Homo sapiens: one gene and its partners. The protein of the gene in region 3 interacts with the protein of the main gene of each other region in a biochemical or structural test. Each region holds a gene or a part of one and is shown on either strand. Other genes may lie near its edges.

The links. The genes of interacting proteins can lie anywhere in the genome.
Region 1: the proteins of SPARC (region 3) and PLG form a complex in vitro, tested with the Homo sapiens proteins (one study listed by BioGRID).
Region 2: the proteins of SPARC (region 3) and VEGFA form a complex in vitro, tested with the Homo sapiens proteins (2 studies listed by BioGRID, with this or other methods).

Annotation. Positions count from the first base shown.
Region 1 is NC_000006.12:160,712,225-160,719,252, reverse strand, and holds part of PLG (plasminogen isoform 1 precursor), read right to left. Parts: intron 6,268-7,028; coding exon 6,128-6,267; intron 4,460-6,127; coding exon 4,339-4,459; intron 2,609-4,338; coding exon 2,490-2,608; intron 960-2,489; coding exon 797-959; intron 561-796; coding exon 415-560; intron 1-414. UniProt on the Homo sapiens protein: Plasmin dissolves the fibrin of blood clots and acts as a proteolytic factor in a variety of other processes including embryonic development, tissue remodeling, tumor invasion, and inflammation. In ovulation, weakens the walls of the Graafian follicle.
Region 2 is NC_000006.12:43,773,192-43,780,219, reverse strand, and holds part of VEGFA (vascular endothelial growth factor A, long form), read right to left. Parts: intron 5,880-7,028; coding exon 5,828-5,879; intron 2,752-5,827; coding exon 2,555-2,751; intron 1,761-2,554; coding exon 1,684-1,760; intron 1,332-1,683; coding exon 1,302-1,331; intron 1-1,301.
Region 3 is NC_000005.10:151,683,905-151,691,480, forward strand, and holds the start of SPARC (SPARC isoform 1 precursor), read right to left. Parts: upstream 3,012-7,576; 5' UTR 2,961-3,011; exon of another isoform or gene 2,478-2,960; intron 2,048-2,477; exon of another isoform or gene 1,925-2,047; intron 1-1,924.

The DNA of each region.
Region 1 (7,028 bases), on a different chromosome or scaffold from region 3:
CAAAATATACAAAAGAGTTACGATCTAAAAGAGAAATAGACTAATTTACAGTTAAAGTTGGACACATCACCATTCATCCACAGTAGTCAATGAAGGAGGAGACAGACAATCAGTAAGGATACAGAAGAACACCAGCAACCAACTTCACCTAAATGACCTTGAGGGAACACCCCACCCAACAACCGCAGAAGACACATTCTTTTCAAGAGCACATGAAACATTCACCAAGATGGCTATATTCTGAACCATAAAACAAACCTCAACAAATCTAAAAAAACTGAAATCATAAGGGCAGGCTTTCTGACCACAATAGCATTAAACTTACAAAGCTACTGTATATTGTGATGATGCCACTGGTATACAAAAATAAGGAGAAAACTTGGGCCCTCAGTAAGCTCCCATACCCTTGCTTACCTGTGGGAGCCAATTGTTCCGTGGATACTGGGGAGGAGTCACAGGACGGTATCTTACAGTACTCCCACCGCACTTGGCTGTTGGTTGTATGGCACCATGGGGCCCTTTTTCCGTCAGGATTGCGGCAGTAGTTTTCATCCAAATTTCTGAAAAAGAAGTGATTGTGAGTTTAGCTTTCCAAAAAGAAAAAAGTCTAGGGAACCACGCTTTGAGAACAACCGTTACGGGAAAAAACGTGCTAAAGTTCATTTCCTTTACTTATGACTAGATCAGTTTTTCTTCCAGAATACTTTATCCTGCGTTCCTACAGTAACTAAAACTAAGGCAAAGTCAATGGGATTTCACATTCCATAGCAGCAGAATGAGACCGGAGGGGACTTACTTGCAGGGGAAGTTTTCTGGTGTCCTGTTATGTGTGTGAGGGGTCTGTGCACTCCAGTGCTGACAGGTGTGCCCGGACACGGTAACAGCCACATTCCCGCGATAGTTTTCACCTGTTCCCTTCAGACACTGGTAGGTGGGACCAGAAGATGGTGGAGGTGTTGCTTGAATGGGCAAAATAAGTTACAATGAATATATATATTTTTTGAGACGGAGTCTCGCTCTGTCGCCCAGGCTGGAGTCAGTGGCACGATCTCAGCTCACTGCAACCTCTGCCTCCTGGGTTCAAGTCATTCTCCTGCCTCAGCCTCCCGAGTAGCTCAGACTACAGGTGCGTGTCACCACAACTGGCTAATTTTTTTGTATTTTTAGTAGAGGTGGGGTTTCATCATATTGGCCAGGTTGGTCTTGAACTCCTGACCTCGTGATCCGCCCACCTCGGCCTCCGGAAGTGCTGGGATTACAGGCGTGAGCCACCGTGCCCAGCCCTACAATGAATAATTTTAAAATAGAGAATGCACAGATGGATGTTAAGGAGGATGGCTGCAGGGTGTTCTGGCCTGTCTTGGCTTTTGCTCAGCCTCTCTTGGAATTTGGCACTTGAGAATTGTTTCATGTTTTCAGATGAAATCAATTTAGTAGCATCTATGCCTGTGAGACCCTTTCACAAGGAACTCCTTCAGAGAAAGACCCTTGGGTAGGTGCTTCTTTCTATGTTCTCTTTGCTCAGTTCTTCCTACCTGGTAAGTATCAACACGTGTCACCTCACACCCCGAATTCTCACATACACCAAAGGTCCACTCTCTTTCCTGAAGAATAAATTATTCACTGAGTAGACATGACTGAATGGCACCCAACATGCCATAAAAGCCAAACAACAGGGAAAGAGTCCATGGAAAGAAGGCAAAAAACACCTCCAAGGAAAAGTGTGTGCATCCAGAAATCAAGATATTCTTGAGGAAAAAAGATGACAAAAAGAGAAACTGAAAAAAAAAGAGAAATTAATATTCATAAAAAGGGAGAATGCCTGAGGAACTTCCGCTTTCAAAGGACACATGTCAGAGGAAAGGAGGGGAGGCCAACCCTCACTGAATCCTTTTTAACCTTTCATGCCTGTATTTCTCTTAGTGTGTAATCCTTTGCTTCAAATTCTCAGAGAGGAAAATATGATAAAATTGTTTACTCCACATCATTTCTACTAGGTCTGCCATTTCATCTTCTCCTCTTGAACTCTTCCCCACCCCCACCACTCACCCTCTGCTCCCCAAGGTGGAAAAACTGGACACCCACAGACCTGAACATTGTAAACAAAGACACTCTTTGTTTACAAAACAACTATTAGAACTCTGGTTGAAAATGAAATCCATGTGTCAGAGAGCATGGGTCTGATTTCCCTTTAGCACAGAGAGAATAGGATGAACAACACCTAAAGCCTACATTTCAGTGAACTCCTGAGGCAGAAGTTTCAGTTGCAAAGAAAGAAAAACATGATAAATGGACGCTCTGATCAATCACCCACAGTAACCAATAACCATAACTGTTTTAAACCAGCAATAAAATAAAGACCAATAACATCCCATAGGACTTGTAGGTCACTTTTCAGAGGCTGCACTCAGGCACTGACACATGTTTTCTTTTGATTTCAAGAACAGGGCAGGTCCAAATCCTGGAATCTGGGTGTGCATCATACTCACTGCAGCGGGGGATGTCACAAAGTTCCCAGCGCTTGTTGGGGTCGGTGGTGAAACACCAAGGCCGCAGCTCCCTATCGGGGTTACGACAGTAATTCTTCTTCAGGTTCTTGTTTGGAAATCTGAATGGACAAGAAAGATTTTAGTAGCACTGAACATTTACATTCATGGATAAGACTCTTTTTCAAGAGCAAACATTGAGCACCTGCTGTGTGCTAGGCACAGTCGGGCATGGAGGAGGTAATCAGATGAAGGCTGTGTTCAGAGATGGCAACAAGGAAACAAGGTTGGCCCTGTATTCCAAGGACTTTCTTTTTTTTGTTTGTTTTTAGAGACAGGGTCCCACTTATTGCCCAGGCTTGCCTTGAACTCCTTGAACTCACTCAAGCAATCCTCCCGCTTCAGCCCTTTAGGTAACTAGGACTACAGGCATGTGCCACCATGCCCGGCTGCCAAGCACTGTTTTTCTAACAGTTTACATGTGTAAAAATCACTCAACAGAATCAGTGACCTTATCATTTTGGCCATCTGGAAAATTGATGTAAGCAAATTCCAGTTATTCAACCACAAATGATAGCAGTCTTTAAAATGTAAAGTGCTCCCTGCCTAAAGATACTCATCTAGTACCTAACAGAGCCAAGAAATGTGCATCTTCATAGCTTAAAGGAATGGTCCTTCTGGTCTACCAGGCTCTGCTCCCACCAGCCTTGAAGCTTAGAAAAACCAAGAGGAGAAGCTGTGCTCTTGCAAGGGTCTCACCATGCAGTATGGGGCTGGATCCTTCCTCAGTGGGGCCCAGTGGCCAGGGCTGTTGGATGCACTCCATGCCTGGTGGCCCTCTGCGTTTATTCATTCCCTCTCTGATTGTAAATGCTTACCAGGATGGAAAGAGGAGCCAGCAGCGGCTTAAGCAATCCTCTTCTCCTTCTGGTTTCCTGGAAGTGCCTTTACCCAGTTTTGGACCCTTAGGTCTTTCCTGTATTTCTCCTTTGAAGGAAAATGGCAGCTGCTGTGTTTTAAGCTAGCTATTTGGAATGGGAGGTGTACAAATTCAATAGAGCTGCTTTCCACCGTGGAATCTGTGGCTCAGCCTCACTTCTGCATTCTTGAAAGCCCTGGTATGGCCCTGTAGTCATCATAGAATGAAGAGGAAGACCAGAAGCGACTGTGGAATGGGAGGTGTTTTCCAGCACAATTAATGTGAAATAGAATACTCACGAAACCTTATTCTAGGAACCATCATGACTTTCTAGAGCAAGAAGCTTATTCTTATTTTAAATTCGTGGTCCCCTTAGAGAATCTGATGGAAGTTACGAATCCTCATTCCAGAAAAACACATTGATGTAAATATACATAAAACATCAGGGATTCAAAAATCCATGACGTCTGCTCATAGGTCAAAGGTTAGGAGACTTGAATCTCATTGGTACAAAGGGAAAAGAAAGACAAGGAGTAAAGAGAAAAGGAAAATATTTGGAAAATACACCAGCAACATGTGTGTGTGCATTTCTGAAGACAGATGTTAATGTATTCATTACTGACATTAGTGTTTGAATGTGTGTGCACATCAGCTGAGGATCTGGTTATTATTCAAATCAGATTCAGAGGGTGTGACATTCTGGATTTCTAACAAACTCTCAGAAAACATCCCTGCTGCTGACCCGTGGACCATATTTTGAGCAGCAAGAATGCGTATTTCACTTGCAATATTGTGGGAGGAGGTTAGCTTTGAAATTAAAAACATCAGGCGTTCACTTCTTGAGGAATGCTAAAATATCTAAATGACAGCAAATGTCTGATAGAGCTGCAGAGCCTTAATTAAACATGGAATGTTTTTCCCAGTGAGACTTACTTGGAAGGAATGTATCCATGAGCGTGTGGGCTCTGAGAGTCCCAGGCCTGGCATTCCAGTCCAGACATGGTCTTGGAAATTTTGCCGTCATAGTTTTCTCCACTGCAATGCATACATTCCTCTGGACAGAGTGGGAAGGAAGGACAGAGAGGAAGAAGAAAACTGAAATGGATGAAGCAAAATAGAGAGTAAAAACCAGAATCCTACTCACTTAAGTGCGACTTGCCTCTCATTCCGATGTAATTCACAACAGGCACTTGGCAATAAAATTGGCAATAAGGACTCAGGATTTTCTAGCATAATCCAAATGTCATTTTCCTTTTAAACCGTAACATTCACATATTTTAGTCAATACTCCCTCAACTATTGTAGTCATGACCAAGTTCAGAATTTCCATGATGCCATGTCCTTAGACCGGGATGCACAGGCCAGTGGGGAGCCAAGGGTGCATATATTCCCAGGAGTCTACGTTCTCCATTAGGAGTTTTCAATATTTGGCATCTTCATTTCAATAATGATCTTTAAAACTTTGTATGAAATTATTCTGATCATTCCGCTGACTGCTGAATGACCTGGCACCGTCTCAGGGTTTTAGTCTGGAGTTTTTGTTTATGCTCATGGCCTCAGGGAGAACAATATTCACCTGAAGTGACAGCGCTTCTCTTTTTATGTTGTTGAGAAGCATGATTGGCTCTTTTTTGCAAAATTATTCACAAACTTAAACTTTGATTCAGAATTATTGAAGTAACATGGTGAGGCAGAGTAATATGTGACTTAAATTTTATGGAGTACTAAGGAAAACGGGCAGACTTAATATAACAGTGATGCATTGGTGGTGCTTAAGGGCAAATACCTATAACATGGTGTACAAATAAAGGATCCCCGTGATTCGAACAGGTGGAAGTGATGGGAGAACTGAGTTGTCACACAGTACCATATCCACACTGTCACACAAATCTCACCTTTATTTATTCCCTTTTGCACTAATGTAGCCAGAAATGTGAAACGATGACAGTTTTTTCAGTAGGATTTTTTTAAAATTTTTTAGCATTGACCTTTGAGGTGCACTATTAAATTGCTCAGTCCATTCAAATAATGGATTGCTGATTTAAAAACTGGTTCCTTGCTTAGCTTCAGCAAAACAGCAAAGTCTACCACATTAAATATATATTGTTTATTTGATTTTTATTGATTTTGTTGTTTTATTTTAACTATTTAATTGCAAACCTGTCTTGGGGTTAACACTGTGTAAGAGTTGTAAGCATAAGAAGTTTGTACTTAGAGTTTAGATGTAGTTTTATATTTGTACATGTTGATGTAACATTTTAATAAAAATAATTCAGGTCTGCTGGGCATGGTGGCTCATGCCTGTAATCCCAGCACTTTGAGAGGCTGAGGCAGGCGGATCACCTGAGGTCGAGAGTTCAAGACCAGCCTGACCTACGTGGAGAAACCCTGTCTCTACTAAAAATATAAAATTAGCCAGGCATGGTGGCACATGCCTGTAATCCCAGCTACTTGGGAGGCTGAGGTAGCAGAATCTCTTGAACCCGGAGGCGGAGGTTGTGGTGAGCCGAGATTGCACGGTTGCACTCTAGCCTGGGCAACGAGAGCAAAACTCTGTCTCAGAAAAAAAAAAAATTCAGGTTAATTCTGGGGTTTTGCTTCTTTCCGAGAGGTGAATACGTTACTCAATTATTAATAACATCCCTGTGGGAAGGGGCTTTACAACAAATTATTTTACAGGTGAAGGGCAGAAATGAAAACATTTTCTAGAACCACTCCTGACCTTCACACTCAAGAATGTCGCAGTAGTCATATCTCTTTTCTGGATCAGTAGTATAGCACCAGGGCCCCTGCGGATCGTTGTCTGGATTCCTGCAGTAGTTCTCCTCCAGTCCCTCTGAGGGGTGTGTAGCAGGTGAGAATCTGGGGAGGATGGAAAAGAAGCACTTAGACTATATTCTAAAAATCAGCTTGCTATTAGCAAGGCAGAAGGAGATGCTCTCGATTCCCATCTGAGATTGTCATCCAAATGCATTTCAGCTGGGTGCTGCAGCATTTGTGTGGTCAGATTTTCAATTTCTCTATTGATAGGCTGCTTCTGGCACAGTAGCTAATATTACCATTGCTACTGTGACAGCCAAGTCTTAGAGAGCCAAAATATTTTTATTGCACAGTCAGGAGAAATATAAAGGCCTCAAAAGGCTGCCATGGTCTTAATTCATTCCAAACACCTGCTTTTGTCAGTTACCGTTTTCTCTGTAAAAATTTTTGTAGTTAATACCATTTTGTCCATGTGAACTATCTGCCAGGAATTCCACTAACATCTTTCCACACATTCTCTCTTTTAGTCCTAATAAAACCATTTGAGGAAGGTGTTATTATCCCTATTTTACAGATGAGAAAACTGAGTGGCAACGTAAAACAAAACAAAACAAAACTTGCCTAAGTGTAAATAGCTATGAAGAAGCAGATCAAGAATTCAAAGTTGATCTGTCTGATTCCAAAGTCCTGGTTTTCTCTGAAATGCAGCTTGAATTATTGGGGATGGAGGAGGGATTTAAGCTTATTTTCAGTTCTAGAGATGAGTTGCTGTATAGAGACAACCATTTAGATGAAAATCACAAGACTTACAGTCTAGAAAGGCAGGTTTTATTTCTGGTTCTTCTGTGAACCTATTTGGGATA
Region 2 (7,028 bases), on a different chromosome or scaffold from region 3:
TGCAACTGCGACAGAACCTCTGGGAATCCCGGTGTGGGGGAAGCGGCTACCTTGGGAGCTGGCACGGAACCAAGAGCAACACCAGCCTGCTCAGCACGACCTGGACTGGGAGGCAGGGCTGGGTGTCCTGGAGCCCTGGGCAGGCAGCAGGATGGGGTGGGAGTTAAGGAGGTCTGGGGAGGAGAGGCTTGGGCGGTACTTGGCAGGGAGTTCTCTCCCCAGCCTGTCAAAGCCTGCTACACCATCTCACCAGACACTCTTCCGAGCCCAGGCGAGCCCCCTACTCTCCCCATGGCAGAGCAGTCATTTGGGGAAACAGGAAGGGGGGCAGGCTGTAGCCTGTCCCCTTCAAGAGAACCAGAGCTCTCCATGCCTGCCAAGCCCAAGAGAACACACCTCAGGATGTCTGTCACAGGGAAGAAAGGAGGGGGAGAAGGGACCAGAGAGGGCAAGTCTGTCCCCCTTAGGAGAAAGCACCAAAGGGTGGAAGGAAGGTTTCCGCATCCCCTCGCTCTGGAAGCTGGGAGCTGAGGGAAGAGGCAAGGGGTTGAGGCCTGGTGGGGGCTTCAATGTCCGCACAGCACTGGAGGCAGACAAGATGGTGTGGGGGAAAGGGCAGGGCACAGGTGCTCTCTCTCAGTCTCTCTTTCCCTGCAAGCTCTTGCTGATGCCAGCCGCCCACCCTGTCTTGAAGGGTTACTGCCGCCAGACCTTGTCCCCCACCCCATCCTACCTGCCCCTTAACACGGAGCACTCACAAGCCTCTGAAAATGACCAACATTCAACTTTTTCTCCCTGGCCAAGAGGGCTGTGTGTCTGCCGCCTGCCGCCTACAGGAGGGCATGCACTGAGAAACCACCCTCCAGCCGGCCTCGCATCCAACTGCACCGTCACAGCAGCCACCAAAAGAGGCCATTTCCTCTGACACACAAAAGCTGGCCTCTCTGCCACCCACTCCCTCTCCCCACTGTGGGTGTCCTAGAGCAAGCCAGTGAGCCAGTGTCCACAGTGCCCCCTGACACACCGAAACAGCAAGTCCTGGTCAGGAATGATCTGGAGACCCAGAAGGCATTGTCCCTTCCAAAGGAAGTGCCAGGCTCCTGGCTATGTTTTCTCACTAGCCCTAGAGCCATCATCCTGGAGTTGGCTCCATCCCATTGTTGCTGCCACCACAAGTCCCCCACAAGACCAAGTCCCTGACCCAGGGAGGCTATGGGAGCCCCCAACAGAGGTAGCCAAGAGCCCCAAACCAAGACAACCGGCCATGGAGAGGGAGAAGTGCTAAAGTCAGGGCCACTTACTTTTCTTGTCTTGCTCTATCTTTCTTTGGTCTGCAATGGGTAGGGAGAGAGAAAAGAGCAAAACAGGGAAGGGTTAAGATGGTGATGATAATGATAGGGATAACAACAATAATAATCACAGTAAAAACAGCATTTATTATGGAGCAACACTGTTTTAATCTTTTCATATATAACTTGTTTAATCATTATAACAATGCTATGAAGTATACTACTATTGTGCCCATTTTACAGATGTAGAAACTGAGGCACATTGAAGTAAAATGCCAAAGGTCACATAGCGGGAAGCTGGACGGGGGCCAAAAAGTACAGCATGCTTAACCCTGGCACAGATCAGGCACCCTGCAGCCACTTGCTGATAATGAATCCGTGACTACATCCTCACCTGCATTCACATTTGTTGTGCTGTAGGAAGCTCATCTCTCCTATGTGCTGGCCTTGGTGAGGTTTGATCCGCATAATCTGGAAAGGAAGGAAGCAGATCACAGAGGTTAGTGACCCAGCCAGCCATACCCAGATGGGACAACCCTGGGGCTCCTGCCACTCAGCACCCAGGGGTTCTGCAGAGCAGGGATGGGTGGTGGAGGCAGGGAGGACCAAGAGCTCTAGCAGGAAAGAGGCTCAGGCCCACCCCAACTCCCCCAACCCTGCTGGCCTCAAGGAGCCCTTGTTCCACTTGAGGCCAAGACATGGCTGCAAGGGTTGGCCAGGCTGGGAATTCAAATCCTAGGTTCTTACCACTCCCCATCCCCTCCCCTTCTTTCATCCTCTCTAGGCTTCACCCTGACTCCTAGTAGATACCCGAAAGCAACCCCCTCCCTGTGTTTCACAGCTCCCTCCCACCCTATCTGGGCTGAGATGTGCCCCATTACCAGGTAACACCAAAAGACTTTTTAAACTCTCCATGGACCAGGCTCATCCAGCTTCCCAAACAAAGCCCCCAAGAAGGGGGGGCACTCAGGACTCTCTCCAAGAGAGGGAGAGAGGGGCTCCTGACACAGGCATCCATCTGTCCCCTCCTGAGCCCATGGGCAACCATCAGGGAGAAGGAGATGGTTGGGGCTTGCTGGGAACCTGGGCTGGGAATGAAGCATCTTCTCCACAGAAGGCAAGACCCCACCATACCTCCCCTGTGCAACTCAGGGGCAGGAGCCAGACAAGGCAAATCTAGCCAGGAAACGACCTGGGACCACCTGTTCCCAAAGTGTTACCCCCCTCCCTATCCCCCCCTTGCCCCACTTCCCAAAGATGCCCACCTGCATGGTGATGTTGGACTCCTCAGTGGGCACACACTCCAGGCCCTCGTCATTGCAGCAGCCCCCGCATCGCATCAGGGGCACACAGGATGGCTTGAAGATGTACTCGATCTCATCAGGGTACTCCTGGAAGATGTCCACCAGGGTCTCGATTGGATGGCAGTAGCTGCGCTGATAGACATCCATGAACTTCACCACTGCATGAGAGGCGATGACACATGAGCCCGGTGGGCGACACAAAAGATGGCTAGCCCCTCTCTCCACCCAGCTCTGTAATGCCACTCTTTGGAGCTTCCGAATCAGGCAAGTCCTTCCAAAATCTAACGTAAGTCCCTCCTACTGTGTTTGAAGCACTTCCCTAAGCTTTCCACCATCAACACTGGTGAAGGCCTGTTTTCATTCCAGAGATCACACGATGTACTCAAGTTCCAAGGGACATGGCCTGCCACATCTGATCCCGCCACCTCACTGTGACAGCTGAACTGAATCCTGGGCCAACCTCGATGCCAGAGGACAGTCTGAGTATGGGTATACCCCATGGGGATGCTCTAAGCTTTCCCTAAAAGGAGGAAGAGCCAGCTTTGCCAAGCTAGTCTCCAGTTTCCTACGTCCTCCCCACAACCACTACCATAACGTCAACCATACCAACAGCTGTTTATTGAGCACTTACTACATCCTGAGTACTGTGTACAGTAGTCCACAGCTATCATTTCACACAAGTTTCTCCACATGGTACTATTAGACACTATTGAGATTCCATTTTACAGATGGGGAACAGGAGGCTCAAAGAGGCTAAGTAAGTTGCCCCAAGGCCGCACAGCTAGTAAGTAAAGGAGTCAGAATTAGCTGACATCAAAGTGTTCCCAAGCCTATATTAGGCAAAAACAGAGGAGGCACCTTTCAGGAGGAGGCACCTTTCCCCCTGCCAGTCCTCTTCCCCAGACATGAGCTGAGAAGGTGGTGGGCATCAGCACAGGGGCTGGGCCCTCCTGGAACCCACAGGTGGCAGTGGGCGGACACGCTGTGCCAGCCCTGCCAGCCACTGATAACCCCGCCCAAGAGGGCAAACTGCTTGCATCATGGAAAAAACAGTGCTGCCACTGTAGCCACGAAACATTTCTAGAAGCTGATCTGAAGGGAGACCAGGGTAGAGACAGTTTCCCAGGCTGGCCACGAAGCCTGGGGTGCACTGGAGCATGAAGGGGTAATTCTGGGCCACAGAGGCGGGGCCCTTGAGAATAAATAAATGCAGGACTCTGGCATGACTACTCCAAATTGTGGCCCAGCCTGCCACGCCTATCGCACCCCACCACCACTACCACATAGCAATCCTGTCCCTGAAATAGGTTCCCTACCCAGAGGGAAGAAATAACACCTGGCCAGTGAGGAGGCCCAGGCTCTGGCCATGAGTTGGTATGACCTTGGGCCAGTCCCTCCCCTCTCTAGGCCTCCAACTCTGCTCAACTGTGTAAGTGGGTTGGGCTGATCTCTAAAGATGCTGAAACAGGCTGAAAAAGGTGGTGTTTTGGCTTCCATTTCCAGCCCTAGGAACAAGTGCTCTTTTTTCAGCCTGGGTAATATGAAGTTTAGAACTTCACCAAAGCATCTTAAGTGTATGCTTCGTGGACTTCCACCCCAGCTCCCAACCCCCACCCCCCAGAGACCACAGCTGAGCCTCCCCCTCACTCCTCCCTCCAAGGTCTGCTTTCCAGAAGAATAAAGGACAATGAGGGGGGCTATGTACACAATAGGTTGATTGGGAAGAAGGTGGGGAGAAGGCCACAGGTGTGAAAACAGAAAGAACAGTGGGGAAACAGGCCAGTCCACTGCTTCCTGTGAGGTCTCTATTTCTTTTATCCAGACCACCAATGGGCACAGAATCCTTCTCTACCCACGAAGGGTTACGGCAAAGCATCATCAAAAAGAGTGAACGAGACTAGAAGTCTGAAAAGGTCATTTTTTAAAGCCAAGTCGATAGGGGAGAAGATGACTAATCAAGAAGTTTTGAACTGCCCCTTCATCACAATTGGGACAGAGGAGGGCCAGGCTTGTGGCCCAGGAGGGGATAGCAGGAAGGTCTGGCCTGGGCAAGGGGTTGGTAACTGAGGGTAAAAAGACCTGGGGTAGGAATTCCCCCAAAAAGCTTCCCCTTGGAATGAATCCCCAAGTCCCATGGGAGGTGGAGGCGGGGAACCTCACCCGCATCCTTCATCAGGCAGCCGCCCCTCCAAGGAGGGCTGGCCTCCACTGCCTGGGGGAGCACACACGTACACTCCAACAACCAGGCTTTCGTGGTTTTCCTTATTTATCGCAGACAACCTTTTCTCCAGCAAACAAAGACCTTTGTCCTGCCTCTCCCAGACCAGAGACCACTGGGAAGCTGGAAGGGGTAAGTGGCGCACTGGAAGCAGGGGGCCGGTCAGTGGCTGAGAAGCCAGGTCCTAGGCCAAGGAAAGGGCTCCTGGGGTGGGGAAGGAGGAGGCAGAACAGGCTGGGCATCACCACTGCTGGCCACTACCCAGCCACGCCAGATTTAGGTCAGGGAAACTCGCGGGAAGGAAGACCCCAGGGCCTTCCCTCCCCAGAGGTGGAGAGCACAGGCCACAGTCAGTGGTGGGGAGAGCCAGGGTGTCCCCAGAGAAATGGGAGGATCCAAACCACAACGGAACAAAAGGCAGGCGGACTCGGGGTTGGGCAGGGGGGCGGGGCGCCTGGGAGCTACAGCCAGCCCTCTGCTGGCCTGGGAGGGAAGTTCACAGCACCCGAACATAGTCAAATGGGGTTTTCTCCACCCCCAAAGGAATGCAAACCAGGGAAGGGAGGAGAGATCCCATTAGGCTGAGCCCTCTGTGCCTCCAGCTCACACAGGAAGGGTCACAGTTCCCACAAATGGGACATGTCTATATAGGAAATGACACTAAATGTCCACTCTCCCCTGGGAGCTAGGGGAAACAAGGGACACTTCCCCCAACACCTAGGATCCCTGAACACTGTCTTCCTGCTCTGTGCGCACGACTCCTTCTCCAAATAAAATTTTACTGGAAAGAGCAGAAGAAAAAGGCAACAAGTCCTACTTCTAGCAGAGACCTGAACAGCGGAGAGTCCTCACGAAACTGAGGGTGAACCTCGTGGTGCCCAGCTCTTTCTTTCTTGATCCTTATATTCCTGTGCCCCTTCCCCTTCCTCCCCACAGTTCTGAAGAAAAAGGAATTAGGCCATCCACCCATCCCCTGAGAGGACAGGGAACCCCATCCAACAGCCAGGGGGACTCACCTTCGTGATGATTCTGCCCTCCTCCTTCTGCCATGGGTGCAGCCTGGGACCACTGAGGACAGAAAGAGAGCAAGGCATGGGCATGGGCAGGGGCTGGGGTGCACAGGCCCAGCCACCCAGCCCCTCCTCCCTCCTCACTTCCCTCCCACCAACAGCCTCTGGCTTCTCCAAGTCTTCTGAGTCGAACAGGACACAACCGGGGGTCCCCACGGGCACAGAATATGCCCACCACTCCTGGACTGCTATGGTTATGAACCCGAGGAAGTTAAAGACTAACCAGATGTTGGGGGCTGGGGAGCTCGAAATGCAGGAGGAAAACCCCAGAATGCTTCACTGTCGAGGTCCCCTGTACCTTCCCCACACTTCCCTCTCCCTGCTCTCACTATCCCCCTAGTTCCCTGGTCCAAAGCCATGGTAAGTATTAAGGTCAAATAGGAGGACAAATTTGGACTGGGGCAGGAAGGAAGGACTAGGGGCGAGAAAAACAACATGGTGACCTTCTCCTGCTGACATGACAAATACCAGGGTGAGCTGGTGTTGGAGACGGAGGGGGGTGCCGAGGACCGAAGGGCACCAACCACCCTCCCCCATCCAAGCTCTTCTAGTCCTTAGGAATAACCCAGCATGCCCACAGGTTGCTTAGAGGGTAAAAACCCAGGAGGAGACCCTGGGGGAGAACCACATTTTCCTCTCTACACAAATCTCTCCAGAGCCTCAATAGATTTCCAAAGCCTCACCTGTCTCCCACTCCTACCTGTTCCCTGGTTTCTTCTCCCTCCCAGGGTGAGGAGGTGCCAAGCCCCTCTCACCTGGGCACCTTCAAATGCCACCAGGGACCAGGGAAGGCTTTTATGCCTTGGCACTGCCCAGCCCCTAGGGGGCCCCCTGCACCACCTTAGGCCTGAGGCCTCCTCTAACCCTCCCCACCCGCATCAGATCATTCCTCCCCTCGCCAGAAGCTGTGAAGGTCAACACGCCAAGACATGCGGACCTGACAGCACCCAAAAGGAAAGGCTTCTGCCAGCCCTTCCTGGGGGTCTCCAGCTCTCACCAACTCCCCTCCCGCCCAGCACTCGCAGAGCAGAGGGGCACTCTAGCCTACGGAACACCAGACCCTGCTAGGGGAGAGTCCCACTGTCCATCTTTCTTTCCCTCTCCTTCCCACACACCCCAAATGCACCCCACTCAGGTACCCCAGCCC
Region 3 (7,576 bases):
TATACTCTTCATCCCTATGGGTTTGTACCTGTCCCTGTTTATCTCTGCATATTTATCTACCTACATAAACAACTTCAAAAGCCAAATATTCTACTGTTTACCTCACATCCTCAGCTCTTTCCTTTCCTTCACCATTCTTTCTTATTTATAGCTTGTTTTCAGCAAGGAAAGCTGCTCTCATGAATAGCAAACCCCAGCCACACTGTTGATTGACAAATCTCTACAGATGGATAAGGATTACAGCATGATGGTTATGCAACTCAAGATCCCCTAGCCCATCTTTTCTTGTTTTCTTTTCAACTGGGGGTGCAGTAAGGCGGTGTTAAAAATGCAGGCAAGCTATTCCTTTGAATAAAAGCGGTATCTGGGATTTAGGTTTATAGGACTTCAGAGTTAGAAGGGTGCCTGGGAAATCATCTAGCTTAGAAACTCTATTTAACAGTTTGGGAAACTGCAGCCTCAAGAGAGGAAGTGTCTTTCCCAATGTCAGGCACTGGGAGTTAGAACACACTTTTTTTTTTTTTTTTCACCCTTGGCCAATGCTTTTCCTACATAGAGGGCACAACAGTCTTGGGAAATACACAAGAAGTTCCCCAAATCAAAATGAAGATAAACAATATTATGATTTTAAAATTTTTCCTGTCAGTACTTCTAGTAAAGGAAAGTTCTATACAAACCCCAAGATGATGGAGCTGCCAGGAAAAAAAAAAAAAAAAAAAGCTGAGAATGATTTCACTAGGTCTTTGGATGCCTTTAATCCATCAGTTCTAAAACCCTTTGCATTATGAGGGAATGCCACAATTCGCAAAGTGCTTCCCTGTGCATTATCCCATTTCTTCTACACACTATCTACCCCCTAGAGGTGGCTGCTGTTACTGTTCTTTAACTGTAGAGGGAATGGGGCCCAGAAAGAAGTATTAGTTCAAGGTCAAATGGTACCTTCAGGGCACAGCCAGAGCTAAAACCCAGGTCTTCAAACACCCTTGCAAGGAGATTATCATGGCCCAAGGCTTCCCCGGAATCCTGAGAGATCACAAGGGCAGGGCCTAGAATTTGCTGCAGGCCTTGAATTTGGGGGTGGGGTACGTTCAGACTGATGTTCTTAGAGGGTTTCAAGGGTCCCCTCCAGCCAGCAGGCAGAGACCCTGAAAAAAAGGTTACCGTGGCAACTCGCATTCCTCGGAGAGTGAGTCAGGCAGAGAAGAGCCTTCTGGTGGGTGGGACTTGGAGAAAGTTTCAAAAGTTGATTCCTTCTCCAGGCAACCCCCTTCTTCTCCTCCCTCCCCCTCTTTGCTCTAGGCTATGTCGATGTGGCAGCTGATAGCTGAGAGTTAACTCTCTCTTTCCTCAACCACTCCCTTTTCAGAAGGCTTCATCCTCCAGCAAATACACACATTTGTTACCAGTCCTCACTCCATCCCCACGTCATGCCCTCTAATCCATTTGAGAATATCTTAAAGCTGAAAGCTGTGACCACCCATATTCATCCTCTCTCTCTCTCTCTCTCCCTCTCTCTCTCACACACACACACACACACACACACACACACACACAGTGCATACAATTTTTAGGGGCTTAGAGATGGCTTGAGGCCCATTCAAAGACCACTCCATAGACCCTGGTTAAGAAATCTTCCTTTGAATATTTTAGAGGACACAAAGCACCCCAAAGAGCCTTCAGTTTCAGCCTTCTTTCATTACAGATGGGGCACTAAATCCAGGGGAGACACTTACCTAAGATCACACATAAAATGCATGCCCGAAGCCTGTGTCCTACTTCTGCTTTGCTTCTCACTAAACCACCAGCACTTGGGGCGTATAGAAATTTAACTCTAAAGCATTACTAGAGAAAACATTTTCTCTAATGAAAAAAATGCTGTCCTTTCCTGAGGAAAATGCATGCCTCTCTGTTCCCTTTTGGGCAGACTGGGAATCCTGGAAGACATAACTCATCCCAGTGCCCCCCTTCCCTTGGAGTCCTTGGAGTCCCTTTCCCTAAGGAAGTCCACTTGACAGCCAGTTCACGGAGCCAGTGGCGGCGAAGAAAGGTAGTGGATTTGTCTGAAGAAGAACTGACACCCTGACAGGCTGGACACTAGTCTTGGGTGGATTACGGAAGGGGACCCTGGAATTCTCTCCCTCTTCCCTTCCCCCTTTCCCCCTTCTGAGAATATCTCCCCCAGCACACTCCACCTCCCATTACACCCATGTCTTGGTTGACGATATCTGATGTCTGGGTTTTCAGATCTAGATAAACTAAGGGCTACTGCCTGTGTTTACCATCCCAAGGAACTCAGGACAGGAACAACACCTAACCCAAGACTGAGGTTGTGATGGTGCCATTTCAGGCAGAATGGTGCTGAAATTTGTGTATTGGGGGGACGGAAGGTGGTGTTTGGGAGTGAGGAGAATTAGAGGAAAACAGAAGGCTTCCCAGAGGTGTGGATTAATGGTGAAGCCTCCCCCTTTGCCTTTCAGAGATCAACTGATTGTTCGTGCAAAGTCCCTTTTGGAAAACAGAACCCCTGACCGAGATCTGGAGGACAGACTCCGGTTGCTGGCCAGGTCCCTGTGGCAGCTGTGATGGGATCAGATTCCCAGGAAAGGAGGAGGCTGCCACATTTGCAAAGGGAGCAAAGAGGACAGGCAGGCAGCCTCTGAAACCAGAGACAGACACAGAGAAAAACAGAGAGTGAGAAAATGCTCCCCCGAAGACATAGTGAGATTATTTTCTGTAAACCTGTAAGGGAAGACAAAGTTACACAGTGAGTCCACCTTCTGAAAAGCAACAGGCAGACAGGACCGAGGGCCATGCTCTTAAGGGGAGCCGTGATGGAGCCGGGAGGAGAGGCGCATCCTCAGCAGAGCTTCCCTCCCTTGCACACGAGCTGACGGCGTGAACGGGGGTGTCGGGGTTGGTGCAACTATAGAAGGGAAAGGCTGGGCGGGGGTCACACATACCTCAGTGGCAGGCAGGCAGGCGGCAGGCAGAGCGCGCTCTCCGGGCAGTCTGAAGGACCGCGGGAATGTGGAGGGGTTTAGAGACAGGCAACAGGAAACCACTCAGAGCTCTGGGCTGGGTCTATCTCCCCTCCACCCCGTGGTCCCTCCTCCTCCTGTCTCCTCCTTCCCCCGGCCTCCTCCTTCTCCCATAGCCAAAGCTGTCTCTGTCTTTCATTTCTTTCCTCCTCTTTTTGCGGTGGGCTGTCCTGACCAAACGTCCCAACCCTGCCTGCCTCATCTGTTCCGGGGCTGCTGCCTAAACCGACTCACAGAGTGCCAGGGCTGGACAGGCCTGGAGGGATGACCCAGAACAGCCTCTTTCTTGTTCAGAGGGCAAGTGAGGCCTGGAGACTGCAAGGAATTACCCAATGGCCCCCAGGGGCAGAACCAGGCCCAAGTGTCTTGATCTTCTAACCAGTGAGCTTTACAGGAGTCCTCCCTAATATTAGGCAATGCTGAGAAGGGCCAAGCAATTCAAGGGGGTTGTATTTGCCACAAAGGCAAGGCCAGGACTTACCACTGTACAGACAAGACAAGCTGCTACTAGTGGTATCATCCTTGATGATTTGGAACTGGTCTTAAAAAAAAAAATCCCACTCAAACTCCACTTGTACCACTAATAGACACATAAGGGATTAGACATCTAGCTGGTGGACCTGTGCCACCAGTATTGAACAGATAAGGTAATTGATGATATTGATGATAATCATAGGAGTAACAATAGCCAAAGTTTACTGAGGATTTAATAATCTTCACAGCAACCCCTTATCTTAGGCATTGTAATTATGACCATTTTAATAATAAGGAAACATAGATGCTAAGTAACTTGCCTATGATCACCTGGCAAAAAGTGGTATGAGAGGGCTGATTCTACGTTTCAACTTGGGTCACTCCTGTTATATATGAACTGCTCAGTGCAACAGGTCTTGGTTGAATGTTTATTTTGTGCCTAACACTCTGGGAGGTATGAGAATTAATAAATACCTGGTCCTTGTCCTCAAAAAGTTTTGTGGTTTCCGGTTTTTTTGTTTGTTTGTTTTGTTTTGTTTTGAGACAGAGTCTCACTCACTCTGTCGCCCAGGCTGGAGTGCAGTGGTATGATTTCGGCTCACTGCAACCTCTGCCTCCCGGGTTCAAGCAATTATCGCGCCTCAGCCTCCAGAGTAGCTGGGATTACAGGCGCACATGCCACAACACCCAGCTAATTTATTGTATTTTTAGTAGAAATGGGGTTTCAACATGTTGCCCAGGCTGGTCTCGAACTCCTGAGCTTGGGCAATCCGAATGCCTTGGCTTCCCAAAGTGCTAGGATTACAGGCGTGAGCCACCGCACCCAGCTTAGCTTTGTGGTTTCTTAAATTCTTTTTTAATTTTTTTAGACGAGTTAAGTGCAGAACTGAGAAGGGAAAAAAAGTACAAGGAATTCAATCTGTGACTGTGAACAATCAATCGAGATAACTCACTATTCAAGGAGCTTTGGATCTTGCTGAAAGGTTGTGCCTTACACATACACCCACTTACATGAGTGGTACAGACTCTAAGGCTTATCCCAGGGCTTCAGATTGGTGGATTCCTGAAAGAGGTGGACCTGGAAGCATGGGTTGGGTTTGAATACCATGGAAAGGAAGAAGGCAGAGAACACCCTCATGATACACTTCCATCCGCTGTGGCCCCTGTCTCTCTTGCCATTCTCTCCTCCTACCACTGTCCTCTGTGCCCACGCTGCTCCAGCCATGCCAACTTCCTTCCAGTCCTTCAACTACCCCAAAGCTTCTCCCACCCCAGGATTTTTTTTTTTTTTTTGAGACAGACTCTCACTTTGTTGCCCAGGCTGGAGGGCTGTGGCGCAATCTCAACTCACTGCAACCTCCACCTCCTGGGTTCAAGTGATTCTGCTGCCTCAGCCTCTCAAGAAGCTGGGATTACAGGCATGCACCACCACACCAGGCTAATTTTTGTATTTTTAGTAGAGACAGGGTTTCACCATGTTGGCCAGACTGGTCTCGAACTCCTGACCACAAGTGATCCGCCCGCCTTGGCCTCTCTAAGTGTTGGGATTACAAGTCTGAGCCACCATGCCCAGTATCTTTGCATTTGCTCTTACCTCTGCCAGAGACACTCTTCCACCTGATTTTCCTGTGCCTATTCTAATGTCACCTCCTTAGGGCCACTCAATCTACTTGCCTCTCTCACAGGCACAGTTCATCGCCTTACACTGTTTTATTTCCTCCCCATCACCTGTCATTCTCAGAAACCATTTGTTTCCCCAACTAGACAGAAGCTTGGTGAGAGCAGGGACTTCACATGTCTGTTTACTGCTTTGTTCCCAGCATGTTGACCAGTGCCCCACACAAAGCTGGCTTGCAATATTTTATTCAATAAATATATGAACTTCCGACTTGCCCATCTGAAAAAAGAGAGGGTTGTCTTTTACTAGGGTTCCAGCCTGGAACACTGCCCCACACCCAAGAGACCCTCAAACCACTAAAGTGGAATATAAAAGTTAGGGTGTTTGGTCCTTTTGAGAACCTAAAGGAAGCAATGAACTTTCTCTGCAGAAAAATCCACAAACACCCAAGAAGGAGTCTTCTCCAAATGACCCCCAAGGGCCGGGTGCAGTAGTATGTTCCTGGAGTCCCAGCTACTCTGAGGCTGAAGCAGGAGGATTGCTTAAGGCCAGAAGCCTGAGACTAGCCTCGGTGACAGAGCAAGATGCTGTCTGTAATAATAATAAAATAATAATAATAATAATAAGGCCAGGCATGGTGGCTCACTCCTGTAATTCCAGCCCTTTGGGAGGCTGAGGCAGGTAGATCACCTGCGGTCAGGAGTTCGACACCAGGCTGGCCAACATGGCAAAACCCTGTCTCTACTAGAAATACAAAAGAAATTAGTTGGGCATCATGGCACGTGCCTGTAATCCCAGCTACATGGGAGGCTGAGGCAGGAGAATCGCTTGAACCCAAGAGGCGGAGGTTGCAGTGAGCCGAGATGGCACCATTGCACTCTAGCCTTGGAGACAGAGCAAGACTCCGTCTCTAAATAAATAAATAAAGACCCCCCAAGGCCTCTCACCCTGGTTCAAAAGCCAAGTGCTTTTGGCTGCTGAATACAGGGTGCTGGTGGACTCTCCACATATCTGTTTTGCCATCCGGACAGATGTATATTTTTATAGGATTGGTTGCTATAGCTCCCAGGCATTATGGGACTAAAATTAGCAGAAGCTTTGTATTTTTATTCATAAACTAAAATGATGATTCTGATGAGGATGAACCAGTGGAACTCTTCCCAGTTTTTGGCTGGTGTTCCCATGTGGCTTTCAGTTCAGGAAGTGGAAGTCTGGTTGGGGCTGGGCTGAAGCTCTGGAAGAGAGATCCCTCCTGAGGGCCACTTCCAGGTCTCTGTGGGGACACCCTGAGCCAGAATCACTCCCAGAAAGAAAACTTGGTAGGTTTTATATCTAAGGATAAGAGCACATGGCTGGGTGCAGTGGCTCACACCTGTAATCCCAACACTTTGGGAGGCAGAGGTGGGTGGATCACCTGAGGTCAGGAGTTCGGTGACCAGGCTGACCAACATAGTGAAACCCCGTCTCTACTAAAAATACAAAATTAGCCAGGCTTGGTGGCTCACGCCTGTAATCCCAGCTACTTGGGAAGCTGAGGCAGAACTGCTTGAACTCAGGAGGCGGAGGTTGCAGTGAGCTGAGATAGCACCATTGCACTCCAGCCTGGGCAACAAGAGTGAAACTCCACCTCAAAAGGCAAAAAAAAAAAAAAAAAAAAAAAAAAGCATCCTGGGGCAACAGGAGCCTCTGAAGCAAGGATGACTCTGACCTAGAAAGGAAGACCACTAGGACTAAGGCTGGTCTTCCTGCCACCTGCCAAGGGCTTTATAGGAAGGGAGAGAAGCACAACGCAGCCAGGTGTGATAGACCTGGGTGTGAGTCCCACTCTGCTATTGAGTCACTGAGTGACTTTGGGCCCATCCCTGCCCCTCTGAACTACACCTTTTCTTTCTTTCTTTTTAATTGTGTTAATAGAGGCAAGGTCTTGCTAGGTTGCCCAGGCTGGTCTTGAACTCCTGGCCTCAAGCAATCCTCCTGCCTTGGCCTCCCAATGTGCTAGTATTACAAGCATGAGCCATTGTACCTGACCCTACACCTTTTCATTTATAAAATAGGTTGGACAGCAGAATAGTAGTAATAAGAGCCAGCATTTATTAAACACCTACTATGTGCCAAGCACCTGCTAAGCTCTTTGCATATATTGTCTGACTTAACTCTTATAAATCTGGAACTGTTATTATTCCCATTTTATAAATGTGGAAAATGAAGTTCATATCAATAATTTGCTCAAGCTTATGCACCAAGTATATGGTAAATCAGAGATTCAAATCCAGGTTTAAGGGACACCAGAGCCCAAGTGCTTGACTACTGCACGCTACTTCCCCCTCAACTCCTCTCCAGCTCTGACATACGTGGACTTCAGACCATACACCCCTCTCCCGAGTCAAGAATGTTGCTGATCCAACATTAGGCTGAATCAGCTTTTCATCTTGTAAAGCAATCCATC